Linked DNA regions of Homo sapiens: all the other regions are reported to be linked to region 1. The links are microRNA targets in miRTarBase. Many come from high-throughput screens and were not tested one by one. Region 1 holds a microRNA gene; each other region holds the end of a gene's coding sequence.
The links. Region 1 holds the annotated microRNA hsa-miR-183-5p (UAUGGCACUGGUAGAAUUCACU, at 2,725-2,746, opposite strand). A microRNA usually pairs through its seed, bases 2 to 8, with sites in the 3' UTR of a target mRNA and lowers its output. Matches are read on the target gene's strand: a 7mer-m8 pairs with bases 2 to 8, a 7mer-A1 pairs with bases 2 to 7 and ends in A, and an 8mer does both.

Region 2: miRTarBase lists CLN8 as a target of hsa-miR-183-5p. Seed matches in the 3' UTR shown: 7mer-m8 at 1,458-1,464.
Region 3: miRTarBase lists ZEB1 as a target of hsa-miR-183-5p. Seed matches in the 3' UTR shown: 7mer-m8 at 1,178-1,184.
Region 4: the mRNA of TRO is a reported target of hsa-miR-183-5p. The part of its 3' UTR that is shown has no 7-base or 8-base seed match.
Region 5: the mRNA of ARF3 is a reported target of hsa-miR-183-5p. The part of its 3' UTR that is shown has no 7-base or 8-base seed match.
Region 6: the mRNA of RALGDS is a reported target of hsa-miR-183-5p. Seed matches in the 3' UTR shown: 7mer-m8 at 2,727-2,733.
Region 7: the mRNA of GAS1 is a reported target of hsa-miR-183-5p. The part of its 3' UTR that is shown has no 7-base or 8-base seed match.

Annotation. Positions count from the first base shown.
Region 1 is chr7:129,772,243-129,776,319 of GRCh38, forward strand. It overlaps MIR183 (microRNA 183), which reads right to left and starts at 2,772; the gene lies at 2,663-2,772. MIR96 (microRNA 96) reads right to left here and starts at 2,527; the gene lies at 2,450-2,527. RefSeq lists an enhancer at 991-1,852.
Region 2 is chr8:1,779,952-1,784,028 of GRCh38, forward strand. CLN8 (CLN8 transmembrane ER and ERGIC protein) reads left to right here. Exons shown (of 3, transcript NM_018941.4): 3 at 299-4,077. The coding sequence ends at 616. Among named protein-coding and RNA genes, the nearest start is that of CLN8-AS1, 17 kb to the left of the region's middle. RefSeq lists an enhancer at 3,762-4,077.
Region 3 is chr10:31,526,968-31,531,044 of GRCh38, forward strand. It overlaps ZEB1 (zinc finger E-box binding homeobox 1), which reads left to right. Exons shown (of 9, transcript NM_001174096.2): 9 at 1-2,837. The coding sequence ends at 297. Among named protein-coding and RNA genes, the nearest start is that of MACORIS, 180 kb to the right of the region's middle.
Region 4 is chrX:54,930,743-54,934,819 of GRCh38, forward strand. It overlaps TRO (trophinin), which reads left to right. Exons shown (of 13, transcript NM_001039705.3): 12 at 1-289; 13 at 462-689. The coding sequence ends at 278. PFKFB1 (6-phosphofructo-2-kinase/fructose-2,6-biphosphatase 1) reads right to left here. Exons shown (of 14, transcript NM_002625.4): 13 at 3,079-3,143; 14 at 2,219-2,720. The coding sequence ends at 2,661. Among named protein-coding and RNA genes, the nearest start is that of SNORA11G, 5.5 kb to the left of the region's middle.
Region 5 is chr12:48,935,325-48,939,324 of GRCh38, forward strand. It overlaps ARF3 (ARF GTPase 3), which reads right to left. Exons shown (of 5, transcript NM_001659.3): 5 at 399-3,784. The coding sequence ends at 3,623. It also overlaps a transcript of FKBP11 not described here. Among named protein-coding and RNA genes, the nearest start is that of FKBP11, 12 kb to the left of the region's middle. RefSeq lists a silencer at 1,165-1,354.
Region 6 is chr9:133,095,207-133,099,283 of GRCh38, forward strand. It overlaps RALGDS (ral guanine nucleotide dissociation stimulator), which reads right to left. Exons shown (of 18, transcript NM_006266.4): 18 at 2,516-3,556. The coding sequence ends at 3,381. Among named protein-coding and RNA genes, the nearest start is that of RALGDS, 24 kb to the right of the region's middle.
Region 7 is chr9:86,942,355-86,946,431 of GRCh38, reverse strand. It overlaps GAS1 (growth arrest specific 1), which reads left to right. Exons shown (of 1, transcript NM_002048.3): 1 at 1-2,070. The coding sequence ends at 690. Among named protein-coding and RNA genes, the nearest start is that of GAS1, 3.1 kb to the left of the region's middle.

The DNA.
Region 1 (4,077 bases):
CACGCACCCAGACAGGCCAAGCAAGGTGCCCGACATGGGGGACGCCCTAAACCCGGGCATCTGGGAGCCGCTGCTTTTGACAAACAGAAAAACAAAGCAAAAAGTGCTTCTCAGTGACCCTCCCGCTCCAGCAAGAAAGGCCTTCGCTGCAGTGGGACAGCGTTCCTGCCTGACACTGGACACCATTGGACAGATCATGGGCAGAACCTTTTGCCCATCTCACAGACCTTCTGGAAGCCACACAAGGGAGGATCCAGGACCTGTTCTGCAGGGTGGGGAGGTGAAGAGGGGCCCTCTCCTATCCTAAGTGCCCCCAGCCTGGGTGGTAGGAAATTGTGTCTTTAGGGAGGAGGGCCAGCTGTGGTGGCCCCCACTCTCTGGGACAGTCACTGTTGTGGGTGAACTCACCACCCAGGTCTGGCCCGGAACTAGGTAAATTAGGAGATCTAGAAACTAGCTTTGGCCTGAGGTCCTCCCCTGGAGCGCTGGAGCAGGGCCCCAGAGCAGCCGGGCCTGAAGCCTGGTGGAGGCACGCCCCCACACCAGTGCCTGCACTCGGGGCTCAGCAAAGGCGCCCACCTGGGCAGGTGTGAGGAGGTGGAGCCCAGCTGCAGACCACCCAGGGGCTGAGGGCAGCTTCTGTCATCCGGCCTTCCCCGCTAGGCAGGAAGGAGCAGAACCCTGGCCAGACACTCCAGAGGCTCCAGGGAAAAGCTCTAGAACCGGTCACTGCCAGGGGCCTTCCACCCCCCCTTGCTGGGTCTCTGTGCCCACCCCACCTCCAGGGCTCATTCTCACTCAGGCCGGGAAATCCCTTCTTTCCTATCCCATGGGACCTGCAGCAGGACGCCCTAAGGAAGCACCCGGGGCGGAGGACTGGAGCACAGAGACAGGGTGCGGCACAGGCCAGCCAGGTTCCGAGGGGCAGAGGGAGAGCTGGGGCCATCAGAAGAGAGACCTAGCTACAGGGACACCTCACCAGGGCAGAAGTCCCCTTCTATCCTGAAATAAACAAGCCCCTCCTTTTTTCTGCAGGGGCTTGGAGAGCTTCTGTAGAGAAACACGGGCACCACACCCCAGAGGGAATTTATTGGGGGCTCCTCGCGGTTTGGTGATAGCTAACTGACAAGAAAAAAAAGGCCCAACCCACCCAAGGCAGTCCCCAGGGCACCCAGGCAGGCAGCACTGGTCACCATGTTCCTGCTGTGCAGTCAACTGGACCCGTCATCCTCCAGCTGCCAGCTTCAACCACACACATCCCCCACCCGGGCACTCCCTGGCTCAGACACCTAAAATGACTCCCACTGATCTGGGCTAAGTCCACCAACCCTTGCCTGAGGCTCCCTGGGGAGAAGCAGCCCCATCAGGGGCTGGCCCAGTGACCTGGGGCATGATAGCTCCCAGCTGGTCCCAAGTCGGCCACTGGTCTCCTGCTTGATTGCTGACCACCAGATTTCACATGGGTCCAGCCTGGCTGGCCAGGCTCTCCCCAGCTTTGACAGACTAGGTCCAGGCCTCCCAGCCTCAGTCTCTGCCATCTGGGGCATCCTTGGGAGCCCAGGCCTGTAGATTCAGAGCTGAGACACCTCCAGGCCCTGGGTGCCTCCATGGAAGGTGTGGCTGGTGGCGGAAGAGCCACAGTGACCCAGCTCTACCACTCACCAACCTCTTCAGCCAAGCCTTTCCTCTCAAAGCCTCAGGTTCCCCATCTATGAGATAACTATTTTAAAAAATTACAAGCCCCACAGGGCTGAGGTGGGAACTGTTGGGATTATATATGTAATGTCACCTGACACCCAGATGGAGAGCATAGGCCAGTTAGTCATAGCCCAGATCCAGGGACCCAGGAAGCTACATTACCAGTGTGTGGTGTGTGAAGGGGAACATTGGCCTCTGCTCCAGAACCTTCTAGGGGCAGGCCTGAAAATGCCCTCCAACTCCGAGCCCCACTAAGTATCCTCCTCTTGGAGCTGTTCGGAGATGACCCACTCCACAGCAGGCTACAGCTCCAGAGACGGTAGCCCCCCTGGAAACACCCAGGCTGACCTCAAGGGCAGCCCACCTGCCTGGAGCTGCCCCCTTCACAACCTGCAGCAGAAAAGACCAGGCCCTGTGCTGCCAGCCAAGGTCTCACCCCAAGCGTGTGCTGGGAGCCTGGCTGGGCCTTTCCAACCCACGGCACCATTCAGGATGGCCCTACAGATGGTTTCAGACTCCCCCACCTCTGCCCTGGGCGGCCCCATCTGCTGGCCCAGCTCAGATTGCTGGGCTCCCAGCTCTACCGTGGCCCCAGGCAGTGTAAGGCGATCTGGCTGCCCACCAGCGCTGGGCCCTCACACAGCAGCTGAGCCAGATGGGCTGGGGAGGCGGTGAGGAGGCCTTGAGGAGGAGCAGGCTGGGGCCCTGACACAAGGATGCAGGGGAGGCGGACGCAGCTGCGGGTCCTGCTTTTCCCATATTGGCACTGCACATGATTGCTCAGAGCGGAGAGACACAAGCAAAAATGTGCTAGTGCCAAAATCGGCCAAGCAGATGGCACTGGTGCGGGCTCTCTGGGGACACACTGGACGAGGGGCCTTGCATCCCTGCACCCTTGGAAGCAGCCTGTTTCCGACGTCTAGGAGCACTCAAGGCAGAAGTGGGTAAGGTGCTCCGGAGGCCCTCGTGGATCTGTCTCTGCTCTGTTTATGGCCCTTCGGTAATTCACTGACTGAGACTGTTCACAGTGAATTCTACCAGTGCCATACACAGAACAGGAGTCACACTCTGCGGCCTGCCGACCCTGCGGAGAGACCAGCGGCCCACGATGCCCGTTCCCTGCTCCTAGCCTGCCCACTCCCTTGGGGGCCCCCCAGCAGGCCCTCAGCAGCGGCTGCTACGGTCTCTACCCCCCACCCCATCCCACCTCTTCACAAGATCCACATGCCCCATCAGCCCAAGATGACCTTCAAGGAGACAGGGACAGTGCGGGAGAGGAGCTGACCTTCTGGCCTTGCAGAGGAGAAGACCACACCAAGGTGTCTCCTATCTCCACCTGAAGGCCCACATCCCTCCACATCACCCAGACTGCGCCTCCAGGCTGGGGAGGGAGTGGGTCAGGACCATCCATCTCCTTGCCAGAGTAACTCTGGCTCGGAGAGGCAAGCAGCTGGCCAGAGCCTCCTCTCTACCCAACCTGCCACAGGGGCAGTGACCAGTGGGACATCCAAGATGCCTCTCGTAGCCTCTGAGCCCAGACACCAGCAGCCCAGGCTCCTAGGCACTTTGGTCTCCATTATCCTCCACCCCCCAGCCTGCCCTGTGGCAGAAACAGAGCCCCAGGAACAAACCGAATCTGCTGCTCACCCCCACTCCCATCCCAAACCAGACCAGATTGGGCCAGACTGTGAACCGCCCAGGCTGGGCATCTCTGCTGCCGGCCTAGGATCAAGGCAGGAAAAGGCCAGGAAAGGAGGGCAGAAGAGAAGTCCTGCAGCCACCCAGGTGGCTTGGAGGGAGCCGGAGGCACGGATGCACTCTAGCAAGGGAGTGGCTCCTGGCTGGCTCTGGAGTGACTGCGGAGGAAAGCGGAGGCTCAGGAGCGAGGGAGGGGCTGGGAAGGTTGCATCAGTGGTTGCCAGAGCAGCTGCCTAGAGAGAAGTTGCTGTGGAGGCCCTGCCTCTGGTGTCACAGGCCCTGGGGAAGGACGGGAAGAAGGGAGAGGGTGGGAGGGAGGGTCTCTGGGGAGCTGGCACCCAGGGCAGGCAAGCTGGGGCCTCCGCAGAGTGGCCACTAGAGTCTCAGCCTACTCCAGGTCAGCGGTGGCCCAGAAGGCAGGGTGGCTAGAAAATATCCTGGAAGGGTCAGAGCAGGTGCCCTGGCCCAGAAACTATGCAGACCTCTTGGCGATGTTACCCCCAGGAACTACCTCCCGTGGACCTCAGAGCTCCATCTGGGTACCTTGGCCAAAGCCATCCGCTCTCCCCTAGACACTGCTTAATGCTCCACCCTTCCTGCTCCCGAGGACTCTTTGTCCTGCTCCCACACACCCCCACTACAGGGCTCTGCCCTTCTAGCTGGTCTATCTCCCCAGAGGAC
Region 2 (4,077 bases), not on the chromosome of region 1:
TGAAAGAAAGGTTGAATTTATCATAGCTTTAGGGAGCAGAAGCCAAAGAGCAAGAGGAGCAGGAAAACAGCATGAGCGGGCAAGGGTCAGCCCTGCTGGCCCAGGTGCGCCCACAGAGCTGGTGGCCTCCTTTCAGAATGAAGTCCCAATGAGAGCAGAGCCCTGGGGAGGAAATTCTTTTGCTTTGAAATGAATTTGTTTTGTTTGGTAAGTAAGGTAGCAAATACCTTTTTGTGATGTGAAGAATGAATTTTGGCAGTTTCGCATTGACTTGTGCATTTGTCTTCTCTCCATGCAGGCGGGCTGGTCCGAGTCTCTGTTTTGGAAGCTCAACCAGTGGCTGATGATTCACATGTTTCACTGCCGCATGGTTCTAACCTACCACATGTGGTGGGTGTGTTTCTGGCACTGGGACGGCCTGGTCAGCAGCCTGTATCTGCCTCATTTGACACTGTTCCTTGTCGGACTGGCTCTGCTTACGCTAATCATTAATCCATATTGGACCCATAAGAAGACTCAGCAGCTTCTCAATCCGGTGGACTGGAACTTCGCACAGCCAGAAGCCAAGAGCAGGCCAGAAGGCAACGGGCAGCTGCTGCGGAAGAAGAGGCCATAGCTGCTCCAGCCGGGGCTCCGGGGCGGCAGCAGAGCTGGCACACCGATTCTGGGAAGCCCCGCGAATGATGGCTTTTGAATTAATGAGGCAGTGAATGTTTTGTGTTTACTTCTAAGGGAAATACTAACTTTCTTTCGCATTAGTATTAATTTTGAAGTAGCTACAAAGTATTTTTAAGAAATTATAATTTTATGACTGTCTGGCAGGCTCTGTCAGTTTAGCCGCGCCGGACCGTGTCAAGCATCTAGGAGAGGAGTCCATGGTGTCCAGGCATCGGGGCGTCACACCTGTTGAGGAGTGGGGTGGCTTTGAATGCTGGAAATGGCTTCATAGTGAAGTGCCTCCCACAGGGCGGGTGGGTCAGCGTTGACTCTTTCCAGCTGCACACTCATATGCCGTGTGTCTTATTCAGAAGTCACATTCTTTTCAGTTGGAGAGAATTGGGCTAAGATAGAAAATAACATGATTTGTTCCTTATTAAAGCTTCCCAGCGTATGAAATTCTAAGCTGGGTGGGGTGGCTCACACCCGACGTAATCCCAGCACGTTGGGAGGCCGAGGCAGGTGGATCACTTGAGGCCAGGAGTTCGAGACCAGCCTGGTCAAGATGGTGAAACCCCATCTCTACTAAAATTACAAAAATTAGCCGGGTGTCGTGGCACACACCTGTAATCCCAGCTATTTGGGAGGCCAAGGCAGGAGAATTGCCTGAACCCGGGAGGCGGAGGTTGCAGTGAGCTGAGATCGCACCACTGCACTCCAGCACTCCAGCCTGGGTGACAGAGCAAGACTCTCTCTCAAAAAAAAAAAAAAAAAAAAATTCTAGACCGAAGTGTACGGCAGTGCCATCTGGTGGCAAGTGGTACAAAGACAACGCTGAGGGGTAGTGACTCCTGTAGCAGCAGAGACGCCTTGGAGTTTAACCCCCACCAACCAGAGCGTGGGCTGGTAAAGATGAAATCTTGCAAGTTTTTTTTTTTTTTAAATCATGGTACCTGTTTTAAAATGAGAAGTTATTATTCATACTGTGTTGCTCATTTGACAAAATAAGGTAAGGATTTCATAATCAGGTTGTCTGGGTTTCAGAGCTGTTTTTAATTGACTGAGTTACCTACAGGCACCCAATCTAGACCCTAATTCTGTGGTTGGTGTTCCTCTGTAGATTTCAAGACAAGTAGTGATGTCATTTTCTCCCTGAGCTGTAGGGTGGACCTGGACCCCTCAGAGATGCTCGACTGCAGGGTCCTGGGGTCCCTAGAGTGGTCCTGCAGCAGCCCCTGGCAATGAGCTGCCTGATGATGAGTCCCAAGGTACATTGTTCTACTGTTTTATACCCAGGTAGAAGTTACACAGCAATTTAGCAATGTTGTTAACAGACATACAGAATTGTGTGTGTGTGTGTGTGTGTGTGTGTGAGTGTTTTGATATAAACGTGCAATTAAAATTCAAAGTTTATTTTTTATCACAAGCACCTTTGAAATGTACGTGGAAAACGTCGGCTGCTCGTGAGAATCATGTGTGACTTACGTTCCTTATGTTTTATGGAACTCTCGGAACAGTGTTTTGTTTTTGTTTAGTTTTTGTTTTCGTTTTTTTGAGACGGAGCCTGGCTTTGGCTCCCAGGCTGGAGTCCAGTGGTGTGATCTCGGCTCACTGCAACCTCCACCTCCCGGGTTCCAGGGATTCTCCTGCCTCACCCTTTCAAGTAGCTGGGATTACAGGTACCTCTACCATGCCTGGCTGATTTTTTGTATTTTTAGTAGAGACAGGGTTTCACCATGTTGGCCAGGCTGGTCTCTGACTCCTGACTAAAAGTGATCTGCCCACCTCGGCCTCCCAAAGTTCTGGGATTACGGGCGTGAGCCACTTCACCCGGCCCGGAGCGGTGTATTTTGATTGCTGGTGCTTTAACTATATTGACCAAGGTGTATAGTAACCTATTTATCACATTTTACGAAGCAATTTTAATCTTAAACACATCCAGCAAATGGTGTCCCTGCTGAAACTTTTAACTGGAAACCTCACACCTGGCAGGCAGCACTCTCTGCAGCCGTGCCCTTGTGGAGTCAGCAGGAGCTGGTGTTTTTCAGCCAGACAGAGGCATAATAAAGTGACTGATGTTTACAGAACCCAAATGATGTCTTCCTCTCTCTCAAAATAAACTAACCTATTCATATTGCTGTGAATGCTTTATCTTGGAGATAGAAAATATAATGATAAATTCATCATGTGTTCAGAATTCGATTTGGAGTTGGAAGTGGACAGCCTAATTTTTATCTCACCTCCACTAGGACTTTGACCTTCCCAGGGGTCCACACTTTACCTCCTGTATCTTCATACGCGTGTGTGGATGCATAGAGATGGAGGTGCTGTAGAGAAGCACAGGCTCACCCGCTCCGTCCAGTGTCACCCACACATTGGTCCGGGGACCCCTCAGTGCAGAGCCTGAAGTTGGGGGTTTAGGGGTGGAAAAGGCTTCGTGAAATGTTAATGATGCGTACACCTTCCAGATGGCACAGCACTTTCCCATGGTCCTCACTGGCCTCAGTCTCCCTGACCGGCAGTGTGAGGGGATGTAGCTATAGTGGAGCATGGTACAAGCGACATTCATGAGCTCTGACTTCTTGGTGCCAGGTTGGTGTGAGCCTGGGCCCGGCCCACTCAGCGGCCCACATTGGCCAGCATTCAGCTGCACGTGTGTGCTGCGTGCTTCACATCCTCTATTGAGAGTTACAGCAAGTGTTAAACGAGGTGAGTTCACATAACAGGAATTCTGGAACTGCTTGAAAACTAGGACGATTGGGCAATATCGGCCTTAACTCCACCTGATGGCAGGTGACCCGGATAGAAAATGGCCCTGCGTTTAGCCAGGATGTGGCTCTCCAGCTTGGCTTCAGTGTGATCACTTGTCAGTGCGCTTTCTCTTTCGATAGTGAAATCCTTCTCTATACCTATGTTTTGTTTTGTTTCTTAAGTTGGGAAACAGAATGGGCCAGGGAGGTTGAGTGACTGAAGACCAAGGGTTGGTGCAGCCTCCTCGCCGCGCTGCGGGGGCTGGGCCGCACAGGCTTCTGCCCTTCTCGGTGTCCAGGCTCCTTGGGTGATGCTGGAGTTGTCATGGCCGCAGTTCAGTGTGAGATTTTTTACCAGGTATTGCGCTTAAGGGACATGATTTTCCATTTTCTTCGCCCGGACAACTTGAATGAAATGGGCACTGTTGATTCCACTTCTGTCGAGGAGCTTCGGGGCTCAGAGAGGTGATGACGTGCCCAAGGTGACGCAACTCGTGAACAGCCGTGCCTGCCTTGGGCGCAGCCTCCGGCGCCAGAGCTGGGCTCTTCAACACGGCATTTAGCGCAGAAAGTCGTGGTTCAGGCAGTATGGGCCGCTGTGACAAAACACCTAAGACTGGGTAGTTTATAAAGAACAGACATTCAGGCCAGGCACGGTGACTCACGCCTG
Region 3 (4,077 bases), not on the chromosome of region 1:
AGTTTGACAAGGGAAGAGGATGAAGACAGTGAAAAAGAGGAAGAGGAGGAGGATAAAGAGATGGAAGAATTGCAGGAAGAAAAAGAATGTGAAAAACCACAAGGGGATGAGGAAGAGGAGGAGGAGGAGGAAGAAGTGGAAGAAGAAGAGGTAGAAGAGGCAGAGAATGAGGGAGAAGAAGCAAAAACTGAAGGTCTGATGAAGGATGACAGGGCTGAAAGTCAAGCAAGCAGCTTAGGACAAAAAGTAGGCGAGAGTAGTGAGCAAGTGTCTGAAGAAAAGACAAATGAAGCCTAATCGTTTTTCTAGAAGGAAAATAAATTCTAATTGATAATGAATTTCGTTCAATATTATCCTTGCTTTTCATGGAAACACAGTAACCTGTATGCTGTGATTCCTGTTCACTACTGTGTAAAGTAAAAACTAAAAAAATACAAAATACAAAACACACACACACACACACACACACACACACACACACACACAAAATAAATCCGGGTGTGCCTGAACCTCAGACCTAGTAATTTTTCATGCAGTTTTCAAAGTTAGGAACAAGTTTGTAACATGCAGCAGATTAGAAAACCTTAATGACTCAGAGAGCAACAATACAAGAGGTTAAAGGAAGCTGATTAATTAGATATGCATCTGGCATTGTTTTATCTTATCAGTATTATCACTCTTATGTTGGTTTATTCTTAAGCTGTACAATTGGGAGAAATTTTATAATTTTTTATTGGTAAACATATGCTAAATCCGCTTCAGTATTTTATTATGTTTTTTAAAATGTGAGAACTTCTGCACTACAAAATTCCCTTCACAGAGAAGTATAATGTAGTTCCAACCCGTGCTAACTACCTTTTATAAATTCAGTCTAGAAGGTAGTAATTTCTAATATTTAGATGTCTTAGTAGAGCGTATTATCATTTAAAGTGTATTGTTAGCCTTAAGAAAGCAGCTGATAGAAGAACTGAAGTTTCTTACTCACGTGGTTTAAAATGGAGTTCAAAAGATTGCCATTGAGTTCTGATTGCAGGGACTAACAATGTTAATCTGATAAGGACAGCAAAATCATCAGAATCAGTGTTTGTGATTGTGTTTGAATATGTGGTAACATATGAAGGATATGACATGAAGCTTTGTATCTCCTTTGGCCTTAAGCAAGACCTGTGTGCTGTAAGTGCCATTTCTCAGTATTTTCAAGGCTCTAACCCGCCTTCATCCAATGTGTGGCCTACAATAACTAGCATTTGTTGATTTGTCTCTTGTATCAAAATTCCCAAATAAAACTTAAAACCACTGACTCTGTCAGAGAAACTGAAACACTGGGACATTTCATCCTTCAATTCCTCGGTATTGATTTTATGTTGATTGATTTTCAGAATTTCTCTACAGAAACGAAAGGGAAATTTTCTAATCTGCTTTATCCATGTACTTGCATTTCAGACATGGACATGCTATTGTTATTTGGCTCATAACTGTTTCCAAATGTTAGTTATTATGGACCCAATTTATTAACAACATTAGCTGATTTTTACCTATCAGTATTATTTTATTTCTTTTAGTTTATAGATCTGTGCAACATTTTTGTACTGTATGTCTTCAAACCTGGCAGTATTAATACCCTTCTTACTGACATATGTACTTTTAGTTTTAGAAAACTTTTATATTTATGTGTCTTATTTTTATATTTCTTTATTTATTACACAGTGTAGTGTATAATACTGTAGTTTGTATTAATACAATAATATATTTTAGTATGAAAATTTGGAAAGTTGATAAGATTTAAAGTAGAGATGCAATTGGTTCTCCTGCATTGAGATTTGATTTAACAGTGTTATGTTAACATTTATACTTGCCTTGGACTGTAGAACAGAACTTAAATGGGAATGTATTAGTTTTACAACTACAATCAAGTCATTTTACCTTTACCCAGTTTTTAATATAAAACTTAAATTTTGAAATTCACTGTGTGACTAATAGCATGATGCTCTGCAGTTTTATTAAGAAATCAGCCTAACCATACAACTCTCATTTCCTTAGTAAGCCAAATTAGGATTAACTTCTATAAACAGTGTTGGGAACAATGTTTAACATTTTGTGCCAATTTGTTCCTGTATTCATGTATGTAAGTTACAGATCTGACTCTTCATTTTTAAGTTCCTTGTTACATCATGGTCATTTTCTAGTTTTTTACCAGACTCCCATCTCACAATAAAATGCATCAACAAGCCTGAACTGCTGTCATTCTTTTCATCATTATCAGTATTTTCTTTGGAAAACTGTGAAATGGGGTACATTGTCATCCTGCATTTGATTCATCTTGAGCTGAATTTGGGTAACACTAAATGTTTTAGACATTCTCCACTAAATTATGGATTTTCTTGTGGCTAAATGTTTCTGGAGAGGTCAGAGTTGACAAAACCTCTTCACAGGTTGCTCCTTCTTCCTGAAATCCTTAATCCTCCGCATTTCATGCTTCAGGTCATTTCAGGGAAGCCTGGGTTTAGATGCCTTTCTGACTCTCAGCTCCTGCACTTCTGTCATCATACCTCTGATACTATTATTTATATTCCTTCCCCACTAGGAACAGGAACCACATTTGTCATAGTCACTCTCACATTCCTCACTGCCTAACAGGGTGCCTGGCATAAGTTGGGACAACAGATATTTGTTGAATAAAAATATAATTTGCATGTTTATGGAGCTCAGCTATGTTCTCACTTTTTTTGCTTCTAATTCCAGAATATATGTTAAATGATCTAATAATTTGATTATTTTCTTATAAGTCTTATTAAACACTAGTCATAATAGACACAATAAATTATGCCTTCTTTTTCTATTGCCTTACTATTTTGATTTTTTGAAAGTGTATTTCTAGGTGTCTTCCTGGTGCTTAACCTCATGGTATATGGCACAGGTATTGCTGGCTTGTGGACATGACTACCTCCAATAGGAGCGATAGGACTGATCCTAGTCAGCTCTCCTTTGTAGAATTCACTTCCCTTTCTAGGACCCCATATTCGTAGGTGCTCGTTACCATGTTGCCTGATTTCCCCTGTCACTGAGAGCAGCTACCAATAAACAGACTGACTGAAAAGGATTAGGAACTAAGAATAAGATACTCTTCTTAGGAGGTATCCACAATGTAATATAAAGTTCAATGAGGGCAGTGCTTGATATGTATGGATAAATGACTAATAAAGGAATTTAGGCATTACCAGAACTTTTCAGAAAGAAAACGTACATGGACCTTTCCCAGTATTCCCTCATATGACATACAACAAAAATAATAGCAGGGCCATATATTATTTATTCATGCCATGCACAGGTATTTCACTACTATCAAAATGTTCACAAAAGCCTCATAAAAAATACAAATAAAGACAATGTGCCCATGAACACATACGTCTTAAGTAGCAGAATGAGGATATGAACATAGGCTTATCTGAGTCCAAATCCATGCTTCTTCTTTTTTATTTTTTTGAGGCAGGGTCTTGCTCTATTGCCTGGGCTGAAGTATGGTGGTGTGAACATGGCTCACTGCAGCCTCAAACCTCCTGGGCTCAAGTGATTCTCCCACCTCAGCCTCCTGAGTAGCTAGGACAACAGGCATACACCACCACACCTGGCTGTTTGTTTGTTTGTTTGTTTGTTTTTGTTGGAGAGTCAGGGAGTCTCACTGTTTCCCAGGCTGGTCTTGAACTCCTCGGCTGGAGGAATCCTCCTGCCTTGGCCTCCCAAAGTGCTGGGATTATAGGCTTTAGCCACTATGTTCAGCCCGAAATCCATGCTCTTACCTAGCCTGTATCACATCTCATGTGAGAATAGTTTACAGTATCTCAATCTTCGCCTTGAAGTATATGAATGGAAAATATAAGAGCAATATACATTTCATAGCCTGGTGGAAAAGAATGGATGGGGAATGAGATTTTTCAAATCTGTGTGCAAACTTAAAAAGAACCTTGAAAAGGATACTATTAAAGTGCAGTGATTATGTTGACATGAAAATGTAGAACAGATTTCATCTCATCCTATCAATGGGAGAATATATTAGGACGTTCAATATGTGAACATTGT
Region 4 (4,077 bases), not on the chromosome of region 1:
GTTCCAACACCAGCACTGGCTTTACTGGCGAACCCAGCACCAGCACGGGCTTCAGTAGTGGACCCAGTTCTATTGTTGGCTTCAGCGGTGGACCAAGCACTGGTGTTGGCTTCTGCAGTGGACCAAGCACCAGTGGCTTCAGCGGTGGACCGAGCACAGGAGCTGGCTTCGGCGGTGGACCAAACACTGGTGCTGGCTTTGGTGGTGGACCGAGCACCAGTGCTGGCTTTGGCAGTGGAGCCGCCAGTCTTGGTGCCTGTGGCTTCTCGTATGGCTAGTGAGGTTTCAGGTAACTGCAATATTTCCATAGCCAGGACCCACAGGGATGGGTACAAGAGCTGGGAGATGTTGTAAGAAACACTAAGGCAGGACAGCAGGGTGGAAAGGTGAGGGCAATTAAGGAATTATGAGAAGACAGTGTATTTGGTGCTAAAATGTGTTCCTATTTGTTTTGTTTTCAGATTTATTCCCCATGTTTACAGATACCGCTAATAAATTGCAGTAGTCCTTCCCATGGAGCCAAAGTACATCCTTGGAATCTTTGTCCACACAGCAGTCAAGGCAGTTATGGCCAATCAGCTGAGGGTGTCATGTGATGGAAAAATCTGTTTGCTGTTCCTGCTTTATTGTTTGCTTTCTGTGTGCTGTCATATTTTGGTATCAGAGTTACATTAAATTTGCAAAATGAATTGGAGTTTTTTCTGTCTTTTAATGTGCTTAGGTAGTTGTGGAGTGGCATCTTGGGTTCGTAGAAGAGCTGGAGATCAGCATAGCTCTTTGGAGAATGTGGGTCTCCAGCTTTTGGCTCAAAGGCAAATATGATTTCAGCAGGATAGAGGCCTGGGGAAAGCATGGCAGGCAAGAGGATAACAGGTTGAGGAAAGATATGGAGAGGGAAAGCCTGGAGCAGAAGGCAAACGGAGAGGCTTCTGGACAGTAAGTACAGATTGATTTTGAATCACTGGTGTAAGAATGGAGGGAAGGGCAGAGGTCACTAGGGGTGGACATAAGAACAAGGGAGGGTTTAATTGGGATAGGAGAGGAAAACTTGGGCATATTGTATAGACTGTGGGGCAAAAGCTAACAGGAACAGGAGATAGATATGGAAGAGTCAGGAATTGACTGAAGTAGCCCATCCCTGAGAAGGTGGGATGGAATAGGGTACCAGAGAAGACAACCCTGACTTTGAACAGACTTAAGGGTGGCTGTGGATGCAGATAAATATAGATCTGCTTCAAGCAGGGATCAGCAACTTCTGTAGTAGACAACAACAACAACAAAAGGAGAGGTGGATTATACAAGGTTTAGGTCTTGCTGGGTGGTTGTGATGGAAGGACAAGGGAACAAAGGCAGCAAGTGTATGAGTCTGTCTCTTTACCACTGGGTCACTGGTACCTGGCTTATGGTAGCTGCCTGGAGAGTGGCTGAAGAGATGGCCCATAGTATCCAACATAGTTAGGGACAGAACACTAAGGATAGATTGGGGGACAATAGAGCATTCAAAGGACTCTGCTCTTGATGCTGTACAGCAACAAATATTGTTCATTCAAAAAATACTACAGGGCTGGGCACAGTGGCTCATGTCTGTAATCCCAGGACTTTGGGAGAGGCCAAGATGGGAGGATTGCTTGAGCCCAGGAGTTCAAGACCAGCCTGGATAACATAGTAAGACTTCGTCTCTACAGAATAATTGAAAATTAGCCGGGCATGGTGGTGTGCACCTGTGGTCCCAGCTCCTTGTGAGAGAGGCTGAGGTGGGAGGATTGCTTAAGCCCAGGAGTTTGAGGCTGCAGTGAGCTGAGATTGCACCACTGCACTTCAGCCTGGGTGACAGAGTGAGACCCTGTCTCAAAAAAAAAGAAGAAAATACTACATATATGCCTACTGTATGGAGGCACACTGCTAGGGATTCAGTGGATGACAGAGAGTTGTAAGGACTGGGGTAGTGGGTGGGCAGTGGTCAGACAGTTGGATGCTTACGTTTAAGAAGTCAGACCAGGGAGATGATACCAAAATCCATGGAGTAGGTGGTTGAAGGGGAGAAGATGATCACTGGAGTTGAGGGGGTCAGGGGACTGTGAGGCCAGAGTATTGGTTGGATCATTCACATAAACAGTGAAATCACTCAGGATGGCAGCAAGAGTTGGAGAAGAAAGGAGCACTTGGCTCAAGTGCCAGATTCTTCCCTGAGTATAAGGATGAAAGTGTCATGCCCACAGCCACCTTGCTGGAACAAGGCCCACAGGAACTCACAGGCACCTATCTTCTCCCCCATCTTTGGAGGTGCTACTGTAGAACTTTTCCCTCCAGGAAATCCTCACCCATTCCATGCCCTCACAGCAGCAGAGCTGGGTCAGGATTAGGGTCAGTACCTTGAGAACAACTGGAAAAGCCTCGCCATGACCTCCTCCTCTCCTCTTGTAGGCAGTAAGTCTTTATTCGTCAGAGAATAGGAATTAAGAAAGAAAGTTTCCTCCAGAGCTAGATAGCTCCTTGGTTGCGGCCAGCAAGCGAGGCTTGTTTGGGAGTTGCGGAGGACTTCTTCACTGGAAGTGGGGTGCCTCAGTGAGGCCAAGGCAGAGTAGGAGAAGAGCAAAGATAGCATTTCCTAAAGGTGGAAGGCGATGAGGACACAGGCAGTTTGACTTCTTGGAAAGGGCTCAGTAGTGGGCTGGGACAGTATCCAGGGCTTCCTCAGGTTCCCGGGTGATGTCCACATTCTGAGGAGAGAGCGCAGGATTAATAGGAAGGAGACAGCAGTGCAGGGCCCCAACCTCTCCCCTGCCTCTTGTCTTCATTGCCAGGCTCCCCTCTTTCAGCCAGGCCCGGATCCTGACCCTCAGGTAGGCCTGGGGGAATCTCAGCCTGAGGCCTTTTAGGCGGGAATTGCCCCAGCCTTGCATCTCCATGGTGCCTCGTGTCTGGGTTGTGGTTTCTGCATTTCTGGGTGCTGTTTGCTCCATCTGTTGGTGCAAAACACCCAGGCTTGGTGGGGTTGGGGCAGCCTTTCTGTGGATAAGGTGCTTTCACCATGTGCTGTGTCCACAGCCAGCTTGGGCCATGGAGTCCCCCACCTACCTCAGGCTTCTCCCGGTGTGTGTTCACGGCCTCCACATTCAGGTAGATGGATTCCACTTTGCAGCCTTAGAAAAGAACAATCCATCTGTCCATAGGCCCCCAAGGTAGGCACAGGTCTTCCCTGAGGTATCACCTCCCCTCCCCCATCACCAGCCACACCCCCAGCTTCATACTGTGTACAGATCATGACTCGCCTGTATGGAGGAGAATTTAGACAGCTATGTGATGTGTGGGGAAGACACCAGGCCTAAGAGGCAGCCAACAGGGTATCCTGTCACCTCTGCCCCTAACAGTCTTAGTTCGCTGAGCTTCAGGTGCTCATTTGTAAATGGGGATGGAGATGAGAGATGAACTCTGGCTGCCCACAGCTCTTGAGGTCCGCAGGACAGCAGTCTCATCTATGTAATATTGATGTAGCTCTGCGGATCCTCCAAGCCGTGTTAGGTGGTGAAGAGGTGGAAGAGTCCTGGGGCCACTGCCTTGGGCGATCAGTGCCAGGCAAAGTTTATCTGGAGGACAATGTGGTTGTGGCAACACCAGGAGTATGGAAGTTCACCTGGGAGTTTTAGGAAACCTGAAGACGGATGAGGGTGCATCATTGGGGCTTGGGGCTGACAGAGGGGGCCTAATGCCTGTGGAAGCTCCCTTAGCTTCATCCCTGTGGACTGCACCTTACTCCAGGCTTCAGTAGGTCATCTGCCCTGTTCGCACCCCAGAATAGATTTGATTCTGTCCCTCCCCTGTTCATGAACCTTTCATAGCTAATGTCCCAAGAAAGACCCTAAACTGCCCAGGCTGGTCTTTGTGCTCTTTCTCCAATACGGCCCTAACCTATAATTTTCCTCTGGTCCCCTTTGGGGAATCCCCCTTCCACAGCTTGGTGCTCTGTGCTGGGTGCTCTGGCAAAGACACAGAGTCAGAGCCAGCCCCAGATTTAGAAACCATCCTACTCTTTCCCTGTTATCCTACTACCATCAGTCCCACCCCCACCACCCACTA
Region 5 (4,000 bases), not on the chromosome of region 1:
ATATGCTTCACACTGGTACTTGGGGCTCTCAAACTTATTATATGCCTAAATCCTATCCCTTTCCCACAAAAGCAGGCTGGGAAGACCTCTGTCCTCAAAGCTTAAGAAAATATTAAGATTGGGGAAGGCTTGCCTGGCTCACCCAGACCTCACCCACCCTAAAGGTAGCACCATCCCTTTCTTTGCCTGGAGCCAGACACTGGTAGCAGGGGAGGAACAGAATAGTGGTGGGAGTGCGATGGGAGGATGGAGGCTTTATGGAAAAGGTCTATTCCTCAAGACATTTGTGGGATCTCTGGATGAGGCTTGGCATCCTGACAATGAAAAACCACACGCCTGAAGTAGAGCTGATGCAGGGCCATCAGTTGTAAGAAGGATTAAGGTCATTACACTGCCCAGACGTTTATCCTTCATGTTTATTCACTGCCAAAGTCCAGAACTAGACTAGTGAGGGGGTCTCTGTTCAAACTAGAAGCACCTCATGTGCAAGGCTGAGGAGATCTGAGAGTAGAGGCACATGGGGCCCTCCAAGTTCAGGGCCCTTCAGCCAGTGAAGTCCATACAGTCTACCAACAGGTGAGAAATACAGCTGATTTCAGGTTTAAACCCTTTAGAACTAGAGGAGGAAAGTCACGAAGCCCTCACACTCTGATGCCCAATTCATTTGGGCTCCCCCGCCGCGGGGTATGATGGGAAGAAATAACCAGTGTGGAGTGGCACTAAGTTCCTCCATAACCTTACTCTCTATCAATCAAGTGTGCCTTTTACCCCTTTGCTGAAAGAAGGAGCACTATGGAGAGAGGGACCAGAAACAGGACTCCCCTCACCATGAAACTACTGTCCCACGGCTGCTGCACAGCAAAGATGAAGGTCGGCTCCAAAGCTGCATAAAACAAGTTTAATTTCCAACCAGGGTCACAGTCATCGCGTTATCCCACATTTTGAGCAAGGATAGAGAAGGTGAGTTATTAAACATATACAGTCTACATTCCAGAGGAGGAACTGCAGTTACCACTATAACACCACAGACAAACTTTGGGGTGGGGGGAGCGGGAGTCCTCAGGAAGCAGAAAGCTGGAATCAGGGAAAGCATAAAATTAAACCTACCAGAGAGGAGAGGAGAGGGAGTGGGCAGAAATGGAATGAAACACCCAATCCCAAAAGAGCTGTTAAGTGAATGGGAATGTAGAAAGGACCACCCCTGCCAAGGGCTTAGCAGCCAGGGATACTACCAAGATCACTTACTGCCCCCTGCTGGACAGATCTGGGGCAGCACCAAGGCAACCTCCTAACATTTCCAGCCCCAGATTGGTCCCTGGAGCCCCCAAAAAAACAAGGTGAGGGGTGAGGCCTGAAGTGAGGAAAACCTATTTAGGACTGACATCTAACTAGAGAAAGTCAGGGAATGAGGCAGGAGAAGAGGCAAAGTCCTCATGAACCACAAAGATAGAGTGGAAAATCCTAAGTAGGAAAAAATACATGGAAAAGGGCAAATGAGCAACAGCAGTGAATGAGTTGAGATTGAAAAGGAAAGAGTTCAAGGAAGGAGAGGCAATGGGGCAAGACAAAATAAATCTGAGGAAACAGAGCAAATAAAAAGTATGGAGGGAAGCATCTGTGGGGCCAGGGAAATGAATACATTTTTAAATGAAATAGAACCTCCAACACCCCCCCCACAACCACCACACACAAACACACCCACACCCATATACACACACACTCACACACACACACAGGCCTAGAGAGCAAGATACCTGCACACACCTGCTGCATCCTGGGTAACACATCACTAAGTAACTGGCACTGAGGGAGATACCCCTGGAACCTCTCTTTCACAGTTCAATCTTGGATGGGGTTACTAATATTGATCCATCTGCTATCAACAAAAGTGGCCAGGAAACCTGGCCCCATGGAGTGGGGCTTGGGACAGCCCTACTGGGAAGGGGTCCCTCAGCCATGCTGTGGGGGGCCCTGGGCCCTGACCTTAGCAGGTTATGGGCAGCTGTCTCGGAGCTCAGGGCGCAGCCAGCACACACAGGAGCCCACAGGACAGCCACGTCTTCACAGAAACTACAGAAGTCAGGACCCAGGCGAGGACCTCAGGAACAAGTGCCCCCTGCAGACAGAGAGACGCAGTAGCAACAGCTTCTGAACAACTACATAATAATGCGGGGAGAATCCTGAAGACCACTGCATCCCACAAGCACTGACAACCACTTCAGGATTTTATTTCCTCCACTCTAACCCCCAGATCCATTTATGAGAAGTGAGTGAGGATGGCAGGGGCATGGAGGGTGAAGGGACAGCAAGGATGGTCTGAGGGCCTGGAAACAATAGAAAATCTTCGTCCTTTAGCATATCCTGGACTAGAAAACAAGAGTTGGAGAAGAGGGGGGTTGATACTAAGGTCAGCTATGTCACCCCACTTCCCAGCTCCTCATTAGAATACCCAGTCAGCCCTGGTCAGGCCAGTAGGAGTACTAGGGTGAGAAAATTCTGACCAAGGACAGATGACCCATCCAACCCCTAAGATCAGAAGGGTGGTGGGGCACTGGAAGGCAGGAATGGGATTGGCCCATGCCTCACCTTCTCCTAATAACAAAAGAGAATGAAGATGGAAAACCTCAGGCCTTCGCCTCCCTTCCCCCAATGCCCTGGGTCCCTAACACACACCATGGACTTGCCATCCCCACCCCCCAGTCAAGCTCCAGAGGAACAGATCTGAAGATGGTGGGGAAGGATCAGTTGAACACTCTAAGCTGATAAGAGTGAGTGGGTTCCTCTCTCCTTCCCAACAGTAAGGCAGAGCAGAGTGGCATCTCCTTGGGAACAGTCATCTAGAGATAAATGCCATCCTCCAGCCCTAAGAAGGGTGGAGAGAAGAGTACAAGGAAAATGGTGGTGAAGAATCCATCATCTGTCCTATCATCCAGAAAAACCTACCTGCAGAGAGGAGGGTAACCAGTCAAAGACTGGGGCAGTCCGGCTTGACTAATGCCCTCCCACCTTCTTCCCTTAATCTCACCAACACGGAAGGGGCAGATGACAGGCTCCAGTGGGCAGTGTCCTGGCTGCAAGCCCTGAGCTTCACTCCACCCCCTCCCCGCTCCCCCCGGCCCCCACAAATATATCTCTCTATACATGTATATACAGGCGCACACATGCACGCAAACACAGAGAGGCCCGTGCAATTTCCATGTAAAACAGGGAGAGGGTGGCAAAGGAAAGGCAAACAGGGAGTAGAAGGGCTTGTGGGGACAGGGAAAGGACTCAGATGCCAAGAGGACAGCAACCACTGCCAAACAAAGAGAATACCCCACTCGACCTCCCGAAACCCAGAGGGTGAGAGAGAGAGGGGCCACCCCATGAAACCGTAACAACTTTTTGTTTTAAATCCAGTAAATTGGAATGACTCATCATCAGGACAGCAATTAGGGATTGGTCATATAGGTGGACAGGAAAAAGGAGGGGAGGCAGGGGAGGCAAGGCTCTTGCTGGGCATGTGGACATGATACCCAGGGCCCTGGCCACACTTGCATGGAGAGGAAGGGGTAGGACTGGGGCAGGGTGACAGTAGGTATGTCAGGGGTGGGTGGGGTGCTTTGTTAGGGCTGTCTGGCTTTCACTTCTTGTTTTTGAGCTGATTGGCCAGCCAGTCCAGGCCTTCGTACAGCCCGTCCCCGCTGGTGGCACAGGTGGCCTGAATGTACCAGTTACGGTGACGAAGGGAATGCAGGCCCAGCTTGTCTGTGATCTCAGCAGCGTTCATAGCATTAGGCAGATCCTGGAGCACGTGGGAGACACATAAAAAGAAGCCTCAGGATTTTTTAAAGGCTTCTAGAACACCCATCTACCAAAGAAATGTGTACCAGCACCTTCCCCTCCTCCTTTATTTTAGGAAACCCAGAACAAGATCCTAAGGAGCTACTTTGGATTTAGTCACCTAGAACTCAAGATCCAAAGCACTAGAGGTCACTGTACTGAAGAATTGGAAACCAAA
Region 6 (4,077 bases), not on the chromosome of region 1:
AGTTATTTTCTTACTGGTTACTTTTGGTATTACAAGTAACATCTTAAACATATAACAATCTAGTTTCAATAATACCAATTGAATTTAAGTAGTATACACTGCTATTACACATCTTCCCTCTGTCAGTCACAGATTATATCTTTATACATTGTTTCCATTAATGTGGATTTATAGCTTTATGAATTTTACCTTTAAATCATAAGAAAAAAGGATGAGTTACACAAATCCAAAGTGAAATAACACTGGCTTTGCTAACTACCTGTTAGTTATCTCTACCAGTGTTCTTTAGTTTTTCATATGGCTTCAAGTTACTGTCTAGTGTTTATTTTAGCTGGAAGGACTCCCTTTACCATTTATTGTAGGGCAGGTCTACTAATAAAACTCCCTTAACTTTTATCTGAGAATGTCTTAATTTCTCCTTCATCCTTAAAGGATGTTTTGCTTCTTCTTTCAGCACTTTATTTTGAGAATATTTTTTGAGACGGAGTCTTGCTCTGTCGCTCAGGCTGGAGGGCAGTGGTGCGATCTTGGCTCACTGCAACCTCCGTCTCCCGGGTTCAAGCGATTCTCCTGGCTCAGCCTCCAAATAGTTGGGACTATAGGTATGTGCCACCATGCCTGGCTAATTTTTGTATTTTTAGTAGAGACAAGGTTTCACCATGTTGGCCAGTTTGGTCTCGAACTCCTGACTTCAGATGATCTGTCCACCACGGCCTCCCAAAGTGCTGGGATTACAGGTGTGAGCCACCATGCTCAGCCTTCTTTCAGCACTTTAAATATGTCATCCTATTACCTTCTAGACTCCATGGTTTCTGATGAGAAATCAGCTGTTAATCCTGAGGATCTCTTGTATATGATGAATCTCTTCTTGCTGCTTTCAAGATTTTCTGTCTTTTGACAATTTGACTAATAAATTTGGGTATGGATCTGAGTTTATCCTGTTTGAAACTCATTGAGCTTCTTGGATATGGAGATTTATGTCTTTCATCAAATTTGGGACGTTCTGGACCATTATTCAAATAATCTCTGCCTTTTCTGAACTCTCATTAAATGTATGTTGGTACATTTAATGGTGTCCTACAAGAACCTCTAGTTCTGTTCATTTTTCTTCCTTTTTCTTTCTGTTCCCTGGACAGAATAATCTCTATTGCCTTATCTTCCAGTACACTGATTCTTTCTTCTGCCTGCTTAAATCTGCTGTTGAATCTCTCTAGTACATTTTTCTTCTCAGTTATACTTTTCAGCTCCGGAGCTTCTGGTTGGTTTTTATAATTTCTATCCCTTTATTGCTAATCACCCATTTGCTCATACATTATTTTCCATGGTTTCCTTTAGCTCATCAAGCATATTTAGGACAAGTGATTTAATGTCTCTGACTAGTAATTTTAATGTCTGAGCTTCCTCAAGGATAGCTTCTGTTAAATCCTCTTTTCCCCTGTGAATGAGCCATATTTTTGTTTCTTTGTAATTTTTTGAGAACTGAACATTGAGTATTATAATGCAGTGACTCTGGAAATCAGATTGTCTCCCTCCTCAGGAATTGCTTTTTTGCTTATTGAAGGATGCAGTCTTCTGTGTCCATAGTGACTTTTCCAGGCTTATATTCGTATTTTTGCCAGGCTTATATTTGTATTCCTTGTTGTGTATAGTCACGAAGTTTCTGTTCTGTTGTCTCTTGGTCAGCCTGTGACTTGATGGAGATCCTGTTAACTGTTGGAGTTCAGCAGCATCTCCCTTCACCAAGTGTTCCCCTGGTGACTATGTCCGACCAGGTTCCAGAGTCCCAAAACAGTTTATTCTGATAGTTTTCTTTCTTCCAGCTTAATCGTTGTTTCTGTGCAAAAACTGAACCCTGGGGCCTCCTACTCTGCCATCTTTTGTCACAAATGTTACTTTATTATTATTATTTTTTGAGACAGAGTCTCACACTGTTGCCCGGGCTGGAGGACAGTGGCGTGATCTCAGCTCCCTGCAACCTCCGCCTCCCAGGTTCAAGCGATTCTCTTGCGTCAGCCTCCCGAATAGCTGGGATTAAAGGTGCCTGGCACCATGCCTGGCTAATTTTTTTTATTTTTAGTAGAGATGGGGTTTCACCATGTTAGCCAGGATGGTCTCGATCTCCTGACCTCATGATCCACCTGCCTTGGCCTCCCAAAGTGCTGGGATTACAGGCATGAGCCACCACGCCTGGCCACAAATGTTACTTTTAAAGACAGCTAAATTTCAGAAATTCTTGCTATGCCTTGTGAAAGTACCTCCAAACTCTAGTCCCAGGAGTTCTGAGGGCTGTCTCAGCACATTTCCCAGTTTAATGGTGCCAAAAGGAACATCTGCTGTATGAAAGGTAAACTTTTGTGTTTCCTTCAGTGTGCTGAGAAGAGTGGCTGGCTTTTCCTGTGCATAAAATAACTGGATAACCCTGCAAGGGTCCTTACTTAAACACGGAATGTGAGAGTCTCTATCTCATTTTAATTAAGACAGGTAATGAAAGAACAAAACTGTAATGACCAGGGTATAGTAGAAACAGGATTTTAATATAATATTCAAGTCTAGCATTTGCTATTTACAACAAATAAATATTGCCCCTCCCCAATCAGTAAACAAACATTTTTTTTTTCTTTTTGCTTTTTATACAAATATTCAATCACCCCACCCCCACCCCAAATCCTCCTTCCTCACTAACCCCCGTCTTGCATGGTCTCGTAAAGCCCAGGACGCAGTGGTGAATGGCACTTGCAGTGGCATGAGATTCAACATCGATGGGACTCAGCTGGGACTGTCCTCACTCACCGGGTGCAGAGTCTGGTCCATGAAGAGGGTTTCTCTCTCTGCTCCCAGGGGAGGGCTGGGGTAAGCGGTGGGTGAGACTCCCTCACTCTCAGTTGGCCCTGATGATGGAATCTTTGGTGCAGCCTGAGAAAGGCTAGAGTGGTGGGAGGGGCCGGGACCCCTGCGAAGGTCACAGGCCAGTGCCTGTGGGCATGAGAGAACTGCAGTGGTCACAGTGGGTGCTCTGGGGTGCCCATGGGCACAGGTGGCAGTGACCCACACCTGGGAAGGTGTCAGGGAAGTGTACAGAGGTGGCGCCCGGGGGCAGGCAGGGCACCATGCCATGCCCGTTGGCACTGCTCCTTGGCAAAAGTCAGCTAGTCCTCTGGTTCCAGAGAGCAGAAGGCACCTAAGGCAGCGAGTGGTCCACGGGAGGCCAGGTCAGCCTGACCAATGGCAGGCGTCAATCCCAGCAGCGGGAGAGGTTCAGGATGAAACTGGAGTCTGGGGTACCCTGGGCTGGCAGGTGGGAGGAAGGCGCCCAGCTGGCCTGGGCCACTCTGGTCCATAAGTGCTTGGCTACCAGCCAGCCAGACCCTGGGAGGATGCCCTCAGAAGATGCCCTTGGCAATCTTGAGTCCTTTCTGCTTCATGCGAGGGAGGGTGGAGCTGGCTCCGTGCTTGACCTTCACTCCCTTGGTGAAGGTCCGCTTCTTGAGGACAAAGTCATAGTTGGCGGTAGAGTTCATGGCATAGAAGACGTTGGCGTTTTCAGGGATCTTCAGCTCTGGTGGGGAGGGGCAGAGGGGTGATCAGGGATGCTCCTGGGGGCCCTGCAGGATACCCCTACCGCTTGAGAGCCCATACAAGGACTGTCTTGAGCCACAGACCTCAGATCCCCTCCAATACAGCTCCAGAACTCCAAGGACCCCTCTCAATGACTCCTGCCTGAGGACAGACTCTGCTGAGGTCCTCACAAAACCTGATGACTCTTGTTTAAACAGGGACTGACTCCAGAACCCCCCGGCTTGGCCTGAGCTGGCAGAGGGTCACCCCGTCCTGCCCATACTGCAGTGCTGGCTGCCCACCTGGAACAGGCTTTCTAGAATCCAGGTCACCTCCCAGAATCCTGCCCTACTCAGGACAAGGGATCCAAGGACCAGGAAAGGACAGGCCTGCCCCAGGGCTCTGGCGCCCGTTCCAGGGAGGCCTGTACTCCTTGAACCCTGGCACCCGGCAAGCACTTCCTTTTGGCTCCATTTCCCACCATCTCCTCTGGCCCACAGCCTGCTATAAACCAGAGCTGGG
Region 7 (4,077 bases), not on the chromosome of region 1:
AACCACACGCGCCGCGGGCCCGCCCTGGAGGACTGTGACTGCGCGCAGGACGAGAACTGCAAGTCCACCAAGCGCGCCATTGAGCCGTGCCTGCCCCGGACGAGCGGCGGCGGCGCGGGCGGCCCCGGCGCGGGCGGGGTCATGGGCTGCACCGAGGCCCGGCGGCGCTGCGACCGCGACAGCCGCTGCAACCTGGCGCTGAGCCGCTACCTGACCTACTGCGGCAAAGTCTTCAACGGGCTGCGCTGCACGGACGAATGCCGCACCGTCATTGAGGACATGCTGGCTATGCCCAAGGCGGCGCTGCTCAACGACTGCGTGTGCGACGGCCTCGAGCGGCCCATCTGCGAGTCGGTCAAGGAGAACATGGCCCGCCTGTGCTTCGGCGCCGAGCTGGGCAACGGCCCCGGCAGCAGCGGCTCGGACGGGGGCCTGGACGACTACTACGATGAGGACTACGATGACGAGCAGCGCACCGGGGGCGCGGGTGGTGAGCAGCCGCTGGACGACGACGACGGCGTCCCGCACCCACCGCGCCCGGGCAGCGGCGCTGCTGCATCGGGCGGCCGCGGGGACCTGCCCTATGGGCCTGGGCGCAGGAGCAGCGGCGGCGGCGGCCGCTTGGCGCCCCGGGGCGCCTGGACCCCACTCGCCTCCATCTTGCTGCTGCTGCTTGGGCCGCTCTTTTAGCCCTCGCGCCCCCCGCCGTTGGCTGCGGGAGAGCCCGCGTCCCACTCCCGTGCTCGCCTCGACCCCGCGCCGGGCACCTGTGGCTTGGGACAGATAGAAGGGATGGTTGGGGATACTTCCCAAAACTTTTTCCAAGTCAACTTGGTGTAGCCGGTTCCCCGGCCACGACTCTGGGCACTTCCCCTGAAGCTCCTCTCCGGAGCTTGACTTCTTGGACCTCCTCCCCCGCCCCAATTCCAAGCTCCAGAAACTCCCAACTCGTCTGCCGTCCAGAAAGCTAGCTGCAGTGTTCAGGACGTCCGGGAGGAAGCAAGCATGTGGGGGACAGAACAGTAGTCCTGGACTCGAAAGGGAAGGTGCTGACCAGTGGGGCCTTAGCAATTTGAAGGGTTGGGAAGGAGGAATTATATTTGCAAAGGGGCTGTCTATTAGCATATTTCCTTTGAGGGGGCAAAAAAAAGTGCCAGTATCGACTTTTACAGATTGTGGCCAGTGAGGATATTATAATCCTATGTAAACAGAAAAGTCCCACTTACCGATTCATTCTTTCACTGTTTGTATCTGCGCCCAGAATTCTCAGTGACGTGGGGGTGAGGGTGGGTGGCGATTGCCTTAGAGGGAACCCCTAAATTGGTTTTGGATAAGTTTGAGCCCTTGACCTTAATTTCATTGCTACCACTCTGATCTCTTAGCACATTTCTTAGGATTAAGGGTCCAAAAATGCTGATCTAAGGGGTTGCCATGGTGTTGAACAATGCAACTTTTTATTTAAAAAAGCTCTGCACTGCCATGTATGAAAGTCTCTTTATGATGTTTGTTTTTTTGTCATTTTTGTTCTTTACATCAAGAAATTTTATGTTTAAATATGCGGAGAATGTATATTGCCTCTGCTCCTATCAGGGTTGCTAAACCCTGGTACATCGTATATAAAATGTATTAAAACTGGGGTTTGTTACCAGTTGCTGTACTTTGTATATAGAATTTTTATAAATTGTATGCTTCAGAAATAATTTATTTTTAAAAAGAAATTAAAAGTTTTAAACTCACATCCATATTACACCTTTCCCCCCTGAAATGTATAGAATCCATTTGTCATCAGGAATCAAAACCCACAGTCCATTGTGAAGTGTGCTATATTTAGAACAGTCTTAAAATGTACAGTGTATTTTATAGAATTGAAGTTAACATTCTTATTTTCAAGAGAATTTATGGACGTTGTAGAAATGTACAAATGCATTTCCAAACTGCCTTAAACGTTGTATTTTTATAGACATGTTTTTTAAAAATCCTAAGTTTTTAAATAACTATGGATTTGTGTATTTTTTTTGGTTATTTGTTTTATTAAAACATGTACATCAGTAAAGAGTTTTAAACAATGAATATGGTGTAGTTACTTTCCAGAGTTACATTGTGGTTAACCCAATAATGGGTGAGGAGGGGGGTTGAGGGGGCACTGAGAATCTATCAACCATCAACTGAAATGAAAATACAGTACAAGACAAGAAATTATTTCTGCCTTTAATTTAATGAACAATTAGACATCTGTAAATGAGGCAGCCAAAAATATGTAATTGACTGGCTTCTATTGGTGTTTGCATTTGTGGAGAGAATTCACAAAATAGTGTCTCCTGTACATAATTTGAGGATAACTCAGACATGTTGCCCCGCCTCCCCCTTTTCCCCTGAGACCTCCCCTCTTTGTATCCCCCTTCCCATCACCCCTTACCCCCAAGAGTATCCTCTCTGGCTACTAGCCATTCTCAATCAAACATGCCAATAACATCTGTTACCAATAGGTTTTAGGAAGCTTGCAAGCTCAATACTTCAAAGTCATTTTCACACTTTTGGTGAAAAAGTACAAAATTTTGTTGCAAAACATTCAGACCAGCAAAAGTAAACACACAGGGGAAAGGAACAATCACCAGAACTTGTAATATTGTTGTGAGGAGTTGTTTAGCAGTGGCTGAAGGCTGGGTTCCTGCCAGAGCTACTGATCTACACTCAAACGCCCTTAGATAAATAATTACACTCTTAAGCTGTGTCGAGTGCTGATACACTTGACCTTGTAAATAGAAATGTTTGCAGTAGGAATAAACTCCGGCATTGGAAAATCTTTTAAACATTAACACAAAAGAGAGCGCTCTGTCCTCTAGGGATTTGAGCCTGAACCTCGCCAAGCTAGGCACTTGCAAGGGGGAAAAAAAGTTTATTTATCTTCTATTCCTGGTGTTTGTTTAAAGCTTTTCATTTTAAACGCGGTGATTGGAAGGCAAGTCGGGAGTTTAAAAGTCACCACAAATAAACTTTGTCTGAGGGGTCGACAGATTAGCAAGATCTGGTGTCTCTTTATTTGATATTAACATGTGCTGAAAAAACATAACCAGATTTCTCTGCTGCCTAAAGTAATTAACGAAGCTATGCCCCCATTCTGACTTCCTCATACCCACTCCCACCCCCCTACTTTTCAAGGTTTCTTGTGCTTCTAACTCGCTCTTTTCCCAGCTTTTATGGAGGTATTCAAGACACTTCTTGGTGCACCTAAAACCACGATTTCTATATGTATAGTATTAGAAAGTCTAAGATAGCTGTAGTGTCAGACTTAAGCCCAGGAGAGTGGTGTGTGGTTGGAATCTCCAGTCACCTGAATGGTTGAGTAAACATATTGTTAAAACAAAGCTGAGAGCGTTGTTTCTTTGGGAAGCGAACAAAGAGTATTCCCAGAGACTTGTAAATGAAATCAGCTTTCTTTACAAAACGACAAGTTAGCAGTGCTCCTGCGTTTGTCCTTAAATATATTTAAATCATCTCCATCTCATGTTATTTTAACACATGCTTGACTAAAAGTTAAGTCTTTGTCCCAGTAAAAGGCCCAGTTTTCCCCAGTAAGAAGTAAAAGGCATTAGCACTAGAAAAGGCCTGATAATTAACTGCTACAATAAACTCACAACTTGATTTTACAGGGTCCTGTCAAAAGCATCTGCCTGGAATAAATCAACACAACTCGCTCTTGGGGAGAGAGGACACGAGGCTTTATGTTTTCTTCCTTAAAGAAAGTGAACATTGATTGGTGGTCCATTTTAATTTAAACAATTATACACTGGAGCCCAGGAGTCCTCTGGTACCCCTACAGACCTAGCGGAGGTTGTTGAGATGTTAGAACCCTTTGGCTAGTGGTTATGAGATTGCATATTGCCATCTGCTTCTAAGCAGAAAGGATTTTTACAGATGTTGACATCTGTAATATCTCACGCTCTCTGGGGAGCCTTTTGGAATTTTGGACATTTGGCCATCTCAAATGTCCCATGGAGAATGGCTGGAAGTCCCATTAATGAAAGAAAAGGTATCTCTGGCTTTTCCTGGGGATTCTCAAAAAGCATCACCCTTCTA